Homo sapiens: one gene and its partner. The protein of the gene in region 1 purifies or fractionates together with the protein of each later gene. This does not show direct contact. Each region holds a gene or a part of one and is shown on either strand. Other genes may lie near its edges.

What was found. Proteins that work in one complex are often made in the same cells at the same time.
Region 2: the proteins of TSPAN15 (region 1) and SNX19 purify together in Homo sapiens (affinity purification with mass spectrometry; one large-scale study listed by BioGRID and IntAct). This does not show direct contact.

What each region holds. Positions count from the first base shown.
Region 1 is NC_000010.11:69,495,318-69,500,717, reverse strand, and holds part of TSPAN15 (tetraspanin-15), read right to left. Parts: intron 5,125-5,400; coding exon 5,029-5,124; intron 2,510-5,028; coding exon of another isoform or gene 2,439-2,509; coding exon 2,322-2,438; intron 1-2,321. UniProt on the Homo sapiens protein: Part of TspanC8 subgroup, composed of 6 members that interact with the transmembrane metalloprotease ADAM10.
Region 2 is NC_000011.10:130,877,300-130,881,983, forward strand, and holds part of SNX19 (sorting nexin-19), read right to left. Parts: exon of another isoform or gene 3,508-4,684; coding exon 3,323-3,507; exon of another isoform or gene 2,413-3,322; coding exon 2,325-2,412; exon of another isoform or gene 1,256-2,324; coding exon 1,123-1,255; 3' UTR 1-1,122. UniProt on the Homo sapiens protein: Plays a role in intracellular vesicle trafficking and exocytosis. May play a role in maintaining insulin-containing dense core vesicles in pancreatic beta-cells and in preventing their degradation. May play a role in insulin secretion.

The sequences.
Region 1 (5,400 bases):
AAAGCAGATGGCCCTGCCCAAGGGGGAGAGGTCTCATCTGATCAGGGAAGGCCTGAACAGAACAAAAGACTGCCCTCTCCTCAGTGACCATAAGAGAATTCTCCCTGCTTGGCTACCTTCGGGCTTGAACTGAAATGCTGGCTCTTCCTAGGTTTGAAGCCTGACCAGCCTTTGAATGGGAACTCCACCCTCAGCTCTCCTGGGTCTCCAGCCTGCCGACTCACCCTGCAGATCTTGGGACTTGCCCGCCTCCATAATTACACAAGCCAATTCCTTATCATCAATCAATCCCTCTCTTTCCTCTTGCTGTATTAGTCTGTTCTTGGCTGAACAGAGCCAGCAAGTCCCTTCTTGGGTGGACCACTGGACTCATGCAATGCCTGGTCAATGTGGGTGGGAGTGTGAAGGCCTGGCCCCCTCACCCCAGTAGGGGACAACTCTGAAGGGCTGTCCTCATAGATGTGGCTGAGGCCTCCAGCCGAACTGAGCTGAGGCTGCATCACTGCTCAACTCCCTTCATTGCCCAATCCCGCTTCTGGCTCCCACTTCCACAGGTGTTGATCCAAGAGCACCTTCCTGGACAAGATGACCTATGACCCCTGGATCACTGCATATCAGCCCCTAACTCTATCCCTGCATCTAGCATGTCCCTCACAACAGCCAGACTGATTCTTGTAAAACCAAGTCAGAGTGCCCCTCTTCCATGCAGCCCTGTATGGTCCATCACTCAAGGGTGCCCCACAGTCCTGCCTGTGGCCTTCGGGGTACCCATGACCTCCCTGACTCCACCTCCTACCATCCTCCGCTGTGCTCCCTCTGCTCCAGCCACTCTGTGCATTTCTCAAACGCCCTGGGGTGATTCCCACCTGGGGCCTTTGCACAGCTGTTCTTGCTGCCAGGAATGCCCCTCCCCCAGACACCTTCCTCACTTTCTTCAGAGCTTCACCCAGATCCCGCCTTTCTCAGTATCCCAAACTGCAATCCTCCATGCCCTACTTTCTTTTTCTACTCAGCATTTATGATCCTCTATCTTTTACTTATTTTGTTTGTCAGTTTTCTCCACTAGGATGTCACCTCCTTGCGGGCAGAGACTTTGTTTGCTACACCCCCAGAACCTGGAAATGTGTCTGGCATAGAGTAGGTTCTCAGCCAATATTTGTTGAATGAATGAATGAATGAATGAATACAAGTTTGGCTTCCACATCTCAGCTTAGGTATTCAGATGCTGCTGCCCTGGGTGATGAGGTTCAGGATCACCCCACGCAGGCCTCTCTGGAAACTCTGCTACTCCTCAGCACCCCACTTCCCAGAGAACTACCCTAAAATGGCAGCTAACACTTCCAAACAAAGCTTCCCTCCTGGCCCGGCCTTTTTTAGAGCTAGTGCACTTGGCACTGGCTCTCTGACTCATGGGCGAGGCCCCCACCCGCAGCTGCTCAGTTTACAGAATCCAGCAGTGGGCACAGAATGGTGGCAATGTCAGGAGAAAAACTTTCCATGACTATCTGGGCCATGAGTAATTGCAAAGCTCTCCACCTCGTTCCAATCCTGAAACAGTTTCTGGACACATTTGTCAAACACAAGGACTGATGAAGCCTTTCACTTAAGCGCTGACAACACAAGACATCATCCCAAATGACCAAGGTGACAGACCCGAGAGGATCGTGCTGGGGAGAGGAAGAGGATGGCATTTACGTCACCAGACCCCCTTCCAAGCACTCTGCTGCTGATGATCACCAGGACCTCAAGGCCAAAGACCAATGGAGATGCCCAAGGTGCAGGTCCTGCCTGCCTCCACTAATGCTGCAGAGCCAGCTACCCCCGCTAAGCTCCCCTGGCCTGGGCACCTCTCCCTCCTGCCCTCACCTGGCCTGCACAGTTCTCCAGAGTGTAGCTCAGGCAACAGCTGCCTGCACTTCATCCCAGCCCTGCCAACCTTGGGCAAGACACCCAGCCTTTGAGTGCCTCAATTTCCTCATCTGTAAAGTGGGTAAAATAACAGTACATACCTCACAGGGTTGTCGTGAATACTAAATGAGTAAATACCACCAAAGTGCCCAGAGCAGGCCTGCACAAGGTAGGTGCTCAATAGATTTTAACCAACACCACTAAGAAAGACATGGTCTCCCTACCCCCGACCCCCAGAAGCTCCACTTTCAGGAGCCCTTGAGAATCAGGAAAGCCTCCGCTCTGCCACCAACTCCTACTTCCCTGCCATCCACCCACACCACCCATCTTCAAGTTGGGAAGAGAGAAAAGAGAACATTTATACCACCTGGGGTCCCCGACAGCCCCCCAGTCCCCACAGGAGCAGTGTCTACCGTGTTCCTGATGCAGCAGGTGTAGGGCACCCCACAGGCCAGGGGTCCAGGGGCACTGCAGTCGTGGTACTGATTCTTGCTCCAATCTCGGTAGTCCTCCCCGCCACAGCACTTGAACTGAGGGAAGCAAGCAGGAAAGAGGAGCTGCCGTCATCGCCCAGGCCCTGCTCAGACGACAGGAAGGGGCCCTGTCAGGAGACGGAGGCAGTTTATTATGTGGGTCACCCTGGGGCAGGGAGAGGCTGTACACTTTCAAGTCAGAGCTGTCAAAGTGTGGCATGGCTGCCTAGAGGGTAGTGAACCCCCTGTCACTAGAGAGGTATGGAAGCCAAGGCTGGGCTGCCTCTTGGTGGGATATCAGGGTAGTGACTAGGCACTGGGAGGAAAGGTCCTTCCTTGACAACTGGCCTCCACTTTCTTCATCTTCGTGTCCCCAAATGCAGGTGCTAGGCTGGAAAAGATGGCCCTTAAAGTCCCAGAGACCAAGCATGATTCTGTGAAAGTCCCTGCACCTCAACCAACCTTCGCACCCACCCTAGGAGCCACCCCGTCCAGCTCAGCTGGCCCTGCCCTTAGCAAGGAGAGCACCCACACCTCACAACCTGCCTGGAGCTCTCCCCTTAGCCGAGCCCCTCCCTGCCTCCCCTCCCTGCTCCTGTAGGAAGTAGTTGGTAACCCTCCTGATGGCTGGTATGTGCCTGGCATTGTCCTGGGCACTGGAGAGACAGGGTGAGCAAAAGCAAGGCAGCCCTTGCTCAGGTGGAACACATTCCAGTGGAGAGACAGAGAGTGAGCACTGGATGGAAAGGTGCTGTGCAACCTGGAAATGGAGAAATAGGGGGAAAGTGGGGAGGGGCAGCTCTAGGTTGGCAGGTCATGAAAGGGCTCTTTGTAGAGAGGATATTTCATCTGAAACATGGAAACAGAAAGAAGCCAGACGACCCATGCAAAGGCCCCACGCAGAAACAAGCTTGTATTTCAGCAGCAGGTGCGGAGGCCAACAAGCCTGGAACAGAGAGAGTGCAGAGCATGAGGATGAAAGGGCGGCACAGGCTGGACCATGCAAAGCTTTGCCAGCCAGCTGAAGCAGGGAGCTGGGACTGGAGGGCTCAACCAGGGCTGCAGTACACGTCCTGGTAGCCAGACACCTTTCAGAGTCCCCACAGTGCCCCTTAAGCCACCAGGTTTTGGGACCTAGAACTGTCTTTCTGCAATGTAGTTCAAAGGGCATTTGTCTTGCAATGGAACAGACCCAAGGTCAAATCCTCAGACCACCACTCCCTGCTGTGCAACCTCAGGCAAGTTGGTCAGCCTCTCTGAGCCTCAGATGGTTGTCTGTAAAGCAAGAATAAGGATGGCAGCTCTGCACAGCTGAGCTGTGATTACATAGAGTGCCATGCATGAAGCACTCAGCACTGGACCTGGCACCAAGCAAGTGCCCATTCAGCATTAATCACCTCCTACCTCTATGCCAGGAGAAATGAAATCCCCAAGCCAGCTAAAGGCTGGTTCCAATAAAAACATCTCACTCCACCCGGAGCAGAAGTCAGCTCTCCCAGCCCAAGCTGGCAGGCACATCCCTGGCAGAAAAAGACCTTCCAGAGGCTGCACCTGTTGTGACTGAAGAGAAAGTCTGGGCCAAGGGAGCGGCCACAGCAAGTGGCCCTGCATGTGGGGAGAGGCTAGTCCCCACTGAGAGCTGGCACAAGGATCCAGGCCAGCTGAGGCCCCCAAGATTATGTCCCAGGAAGTGCTGTCCCGGCTGAGTGGGCCTGCAGCCCTCACTCTACTTGTCCTCACCCAGGAGAACATACCAATGATCCCCACAGCTGGCACTGTGGTCTCACCCTGTGCTTGGCACTGTTCTAAGCACGTCTCCTGAATTAAGTCAAGGTAATCCTCATGACGACGCCCCAAGAGCTCCTGTCATTATTCCCCTTATGTAGGTGAGGAAGCTGAGGCTCAGGACCAAGTGAAGTTGATGTACAAAAGCCACCCAGGACAGCAGCTGGCCCTACCACTGCCATTATTATTATTATTATTATTATTATTATTATTATTATTATTATTATTATTGCACCAACAGATTTGGGTGGACCTAGAGGGGAGAGATGGTGTCCCAAAAGGAATAGGATCATCATCACATTCAAGGAAGTGTCATGAAAGTAAGAGAGGCGTCTGGTTCACTGTCCCATATTTGGGGGAAACTGAAATTAGTGAAGAACTTTCTCCCAATCAGGGATGTCTTTAACTTGACAAGGAGTGAGTTGTCACTGAAGAGACTTGGCAGAGGGGGCTTTGGACTGGGGTAGGTTACTCCCCTTGAGGTTGCTCACACCTCAAGGAAGGAGGATCCTTGCCCATTGGAGGGTGGTGCCCTGGGACCCTGCAAGGTTGCTTGTAGCAACACCTGACTTTGTTTTATTTGGGGGTATGGGGCAGGAAGCCAGTGTAACTGGAGAGGAACAGAAGGGTGTGAAGGTTTTGGGTCAGGAATGTGGGCAGAGGACTGGCTGAATAGGTTGGGCCCTGGCTTCCCCATCCTTGGTGGGCCATCCATGCTCACTGTTGCCTCCCAATCTGGCCAGCCACCTGCTTTGGGAATGGATAAGTCACCTGGTCCCTCACCCCATCTTCTTGAGCAGGGGCCTGAATGGGGGGCTAAGAGCACGGGAGGCGCATCTCTACCCCAAAGCGCCTGGCTCACCTTTTTCTGAACAAAGTCCATGATGTTTTTGAAGTCCAGATCATCATAGTAGTTCTCAATTCCTCTTCGAATGTTGTCGTTCAGGAAGTCAATGGTCTATTCAAAAGGAGAAATTACAAAGGAAAAGAACCACACACTCCCGGAGTCCAACCCAAGGTTTTCCAGAAGCCTGGATGGGTAGAGAATGCCTTGTGCCAATGCAGCTCGCGCCCAGCCAGCATGGAGCCCCCTCCACTCCCCACCCTGGATGCCCGTGACCTCCCTACCCACACATCCTCCCCGTGCCTCCAGTGTTCATCTGATGCCTGAGTGCCTGTGCTATGTCCCAGCAGGAGTAATTCACTCCACTCCCTTTGCAGACCAGACAGCCCA
Region 2 (4,684 bases), on another chromosome or scaffold:
CCTTGCCTTTCTAATAGATGTTGCAGTCTGACAAAACACCTTTGCCTTCATGCTGGTGTTGTTAAAGGACTGATTATAACCGTAAGGAATGGGAAATAAGAAGCTATTCCTTGTAAGTTTGCTAATCTTATCTGTTCAGAATAATAAAAGTTCTCTGTCAAAGACTTAGGAAGGGAGATTTCATCCCCCAGCCTTGCTAGTCCTACTCTTTGTGCATTCTTAAGACAGGAGGCAAGTGCTTTCCATTCTCCTTGGAAAAACTGAGGCTGAATATGCAGCTTGTCATGCAGTTTTGCTGAAGACAGAGAGAGGGTCAAAAATTCAAAAACTCAATTGCTCTAGGGCAGGGGGTTGGGAGCAAAGCCAATAAATAAAATGGGTGGTATAAATGCCTTTCAGGAAAGGGTGTGAAGGGTGGGGTGGATTTACCAGAAGCTTTGGCAGTCAGCTTTGAAGTCTTCTGGAAAGGAAAGTGTAGCCTCCCAGGCAAGCAGCCTCATGACATCTTCCATAAGGCTGATGTGTTGGGAAACAGCAACACATGAGCAAGAAGTTCCTTGAAAAATTTTCTTCCCTCCTTCTTCTTCTGGAACTGTTGGGAAACTAGATTAGACCCAGGAGTCTGGTTTTTGAGAATGGCCCTGAATGAATTTTTAGTTTCCGGGTAGGAACAGAGAGCTGAGAAGGTTGTTTTCTCCTCCAAGGAAATCTGGCCACAGTTTTTTTCCTGTTCTATCTAGAGCTTGTGTGCTGGTGGATTAAGCACATGTGTGCACAGGGCCAGGATTCTGGCAAACAATCTCAGGGAGGATGGCAAAAGGAGAAGCAAAAGGGGTTCATTCCTCTACCTCACAGCTTCTTTTCCCAAAGGAAACAGGATCTACTCACCAGCAACAATCCCAACATCACAAAAGGAACAGGGAAATAAACGTGCATACAACTGGGACACACAGACCCCTGTCACCTGCTACAAATGGAGCAGAAGTGGGAGAGAAGTGAGCCACCGAGAACCTAGGCCTTCTTAGCTGTAGCCTACTTGAAGAGGGCACGGGCTTCCTGACTGGTCTCTGGTGGCCGAGTAACTCTACTTCCCTGACCTGGGAAGAAGGCGTGAATAACCAGCTAAGAGGAGACACCCATCCTCTTAGAGTTGCCTGGGGTATCTGAGGCAGAGGTGGTAGCAGCAGACTCCTCAACAGAGGCACTGAGATCCAAGAATTCCAGGATGATGTCCCCAAGGCAGTAAATCAAATGCCTGAAACGAATGGACAAAAAACTTAGGGTCTGGCTCAATCAGGAAACACAAGATCCTGTTTATGACATTTATTTTCTCCTCCCCCATCACCGACACCCTAAACTTCAATAGCTTGATGAAACCTCTGCCATGAAATTAATGTTTTTTGAACTAATAAAGCCTCTGACCCTAATAAAGGCAAGAACAGTTTTTATATAAGACTAGTTTTATATAAGACTAAGTTTTATAAAATTCCATTTCTCTTTACATAGTTACATTAGCACTGCTCTGAAGAACTGTGATAACAAATCCTTGAGATGTCAGGTTACTAGACACTTTCAGAGCTCCTGACTACTGCTGTTTCTCATAATTAATTACCTTAAATTTATAGGCTGCCTTACAGGCAGTGAGGTAAAGCCAGGATCCTTGAGGAAGTTAACGAACACAGTCTACTTTGGGGTAGGGTTTGAGTGCAAGGTTACTCAATACTTCCAGAAGAGTAACAGCCCAAGGGATGGAATCTACCTCTTCTGGATTATTCTAGGACTCTTCACCCAGCATTTCTGGTCCCTTTATGAAATTCCAACCTTACTATCTTGTCTACCTGATATGAAGCAAAGACAACTCCTGGTCTTGACATGAATCACAGCTTTGCTATAAGGCCAGGGCTCATGGTGAACATCTTTACATGGTCTGTGATACACAGGCCAGGGTACGCTCTTGGAGCATTCACAGGGGCTGGCAGATGTTGGAAAGAGCACTGAGCAAGTATGCTGAACAAGCCTGGAGGATAAGAGGTCATTTTCAGCAGCTCATGTGGGGGCCTGCATAGAGTTCTTCCAAACACAAATGGTGGGTGGTCCAAGAGTGATTTCCTAGCACATGACGACCTGCTCAGAAGCCTGATGGTGTGGATTTTACTTAGAGTGTGTGGATCTGGACGTCAAACTCTGTAGTCAGTGCCCAGAGCAAGTAAAGACTACAATCCTATTCTTTGGAATGTGGGCTTTTCACTCAGAAACCTTGGATACCTCTGAGACCAGAGGTGGCTGTAACTATGCTGATGTTGGAATAACATTTTCCCACTTACCTGTTGATGAGGGGTTGTTGTAGTGACTCCAGGACTAGACCCCAGCTCAGCCGGCATTTGTTCACCCCAAGAATTTCTACTACGAGATCTGAGGAGGAAAAAACAGATGGAATTTGCGTGTTATCACTGAAGTTTTAGATTCTAAGGACAGTCTCTCCCCAGGATCTCTGCCGTTTTTACATAGGTTAGGTATTTCAGGCCTACCTCTAAACCATACAGCCAAACTAAAATCCTCACAAAACAGGAAAAACCTGAGAAAAATATGTTTCTCAAGTTAGGTGTCTACATAAGAATGGGCTTCAAAAATTATTTTGTAACCTGTCACTCAAATGCAGGTACTCCTTCCAATGTAACAGTTTAGGTTGGCAAACAGAGTTATAATAATAAGGGTAAATAAAACTGATTGTCCAGAGCTAAGTTCACAATTGTTTCCTGGTTATCACAGCCATAGGCAACAAACTGCCTTCCTGGCCCTCTAAAAACACAATGCAAGGAAAAACAACCTTCTCAGATTTTGTTTTAACTTATTGCTAAAGGCCATGTACCATACTCAATGGCTGCAATTTATTAAGTTGGAGCTTCTGTGAGACATGTGATTTTCTTCCTTGGTCCCAAAATGCTATGAATTGGTAGAGAATCTGAAGTCTTCATCTCCTGGAAATGGCTCTGAGACCTGTCCCTGCAGGCAGAGCTTCCCCAGACCTGCCAGCAGGTAGAGAGAAAGTTATTAACCTAAATATCTGCAGGATTGTCACCTAGTATTTAGGGTGCAGCTGTAGAGTTCCTTTCCATTCCCTTGGCATCAGCTGAGCAATGGATAAAAGAATTGCAGCCCTGTTCATTTTCCTATTAGCCTGGGAAATGATGGGTCAACAGAGTTTTGAATCTAGCCACATTCAGGGCCCTTTTACAAACAGGAAAAGGTGCAGGGGTAATGGTGGCAAAGCAGAATGGAAGAGAAATGTGATTGGTATAATTGATCTCATTGGTCCAATTACCTGGGAGGACTCCCATCAGGCTCTGCAAAGCCTGTTTCTCAGCAGCCAGTTTCTGCTCTTGGGTCCTTACGGGCCGTGGAAACTTAGGCAAAACTCCACCAGGCCAGATGGACTCCTGAAGAAGCAGGAGGTACTGCACCCAGCGCTGTGGACTTGTTAAATTAGCTACCTGCACCTCTAGCCACCTGTGGTAGAAGAGAGACGAAAGCTTAGATAAAGCTGAAGGAAAGGAAATAACAAGGCAGCGGACTGACTGTTTATGTTCCCCTGCAGATTCGTGTGTCAAAATCCTAACCCTCAAGGTGATGGCAGTAGGAGGTGGGGCCTTTGGGGAGGTGATTAGGTCATGGGGGCAAAGGTAAATGCCCTTATAAAAGAAACCTGAGAGAGACTTCTCACCCCTTTTGCCATATGAGGACACAGGGAGAAGACAGCTGTCTATGAACAAGGAAAAGGGCCCTTGCCAGACACCAGTTCTGCTGGTACCTTGATCTTGAACCTCCCGGCCTTTAGAAACTGTGAGAAATAAATTTCTGTTGTTTATAAGCCATTCAGTTTATGGTATTTTGTTATAGCAGCCCAAACAGACTAAGATACCATGAATTACATGAGCAATCAGAACAGGACAAAGTCAGCACTGACTCTTGCAAAGGAAACCAAGACAATTCAACAGCCTGGGATAACAGAATTTGAAGATGAGTAACAATAAGAATCGTGTTATTTATGGAGCGTTCACTATGTGCCATCTACCGTACAAGAAGTTTTACAGAACAGAACACTAAAAGGGCCTCCGTCTCTGGGTGAGCCTGCACCTATACCTTCCCAACTCTCCTCTGGCAAGGCTGCACCTATTATCTTTCTAGCTCTCCTCTGATGGGAAGCATTATAACCTTCTTGGTAACATGTACACACAGACTTCACAGCTACGGACTTAGCGATCTTTAAACAAATTCCTCTCTCTACCTCCCCAGCCATATCTTCTGGTCCTCATGACTGTCTTAGGGATTTCCTACATCTGCCCTTTGTTCATAATAGTTCTCTCACTAACAAGGGCCTCTTCTCGCCTTGCCTGAAGAGCAAGTCTCAAGTCTGCCCTTCTGGCAAGACCTGTTTCAACCCTACTTCCTCCATGAAATCCTTGACCATCACAGCTGGAAGTGCTCTCCTTCTCCATAGACCTCCTTTGGCAGGTAGCTCTGGAACAATTACTTTGGAATATGCATCTTTTTAAAGGTGTTTATAGCTTTACTTCTTCAACTAAATTATAAGCTGTAAGAGTTCTGTGTCTTGTACTTTAAAAAAACTCCCCGCCGTGCTTGGTGCTCAAGAAATGGTTGACTGACTGATAACTGTTCTTATTTC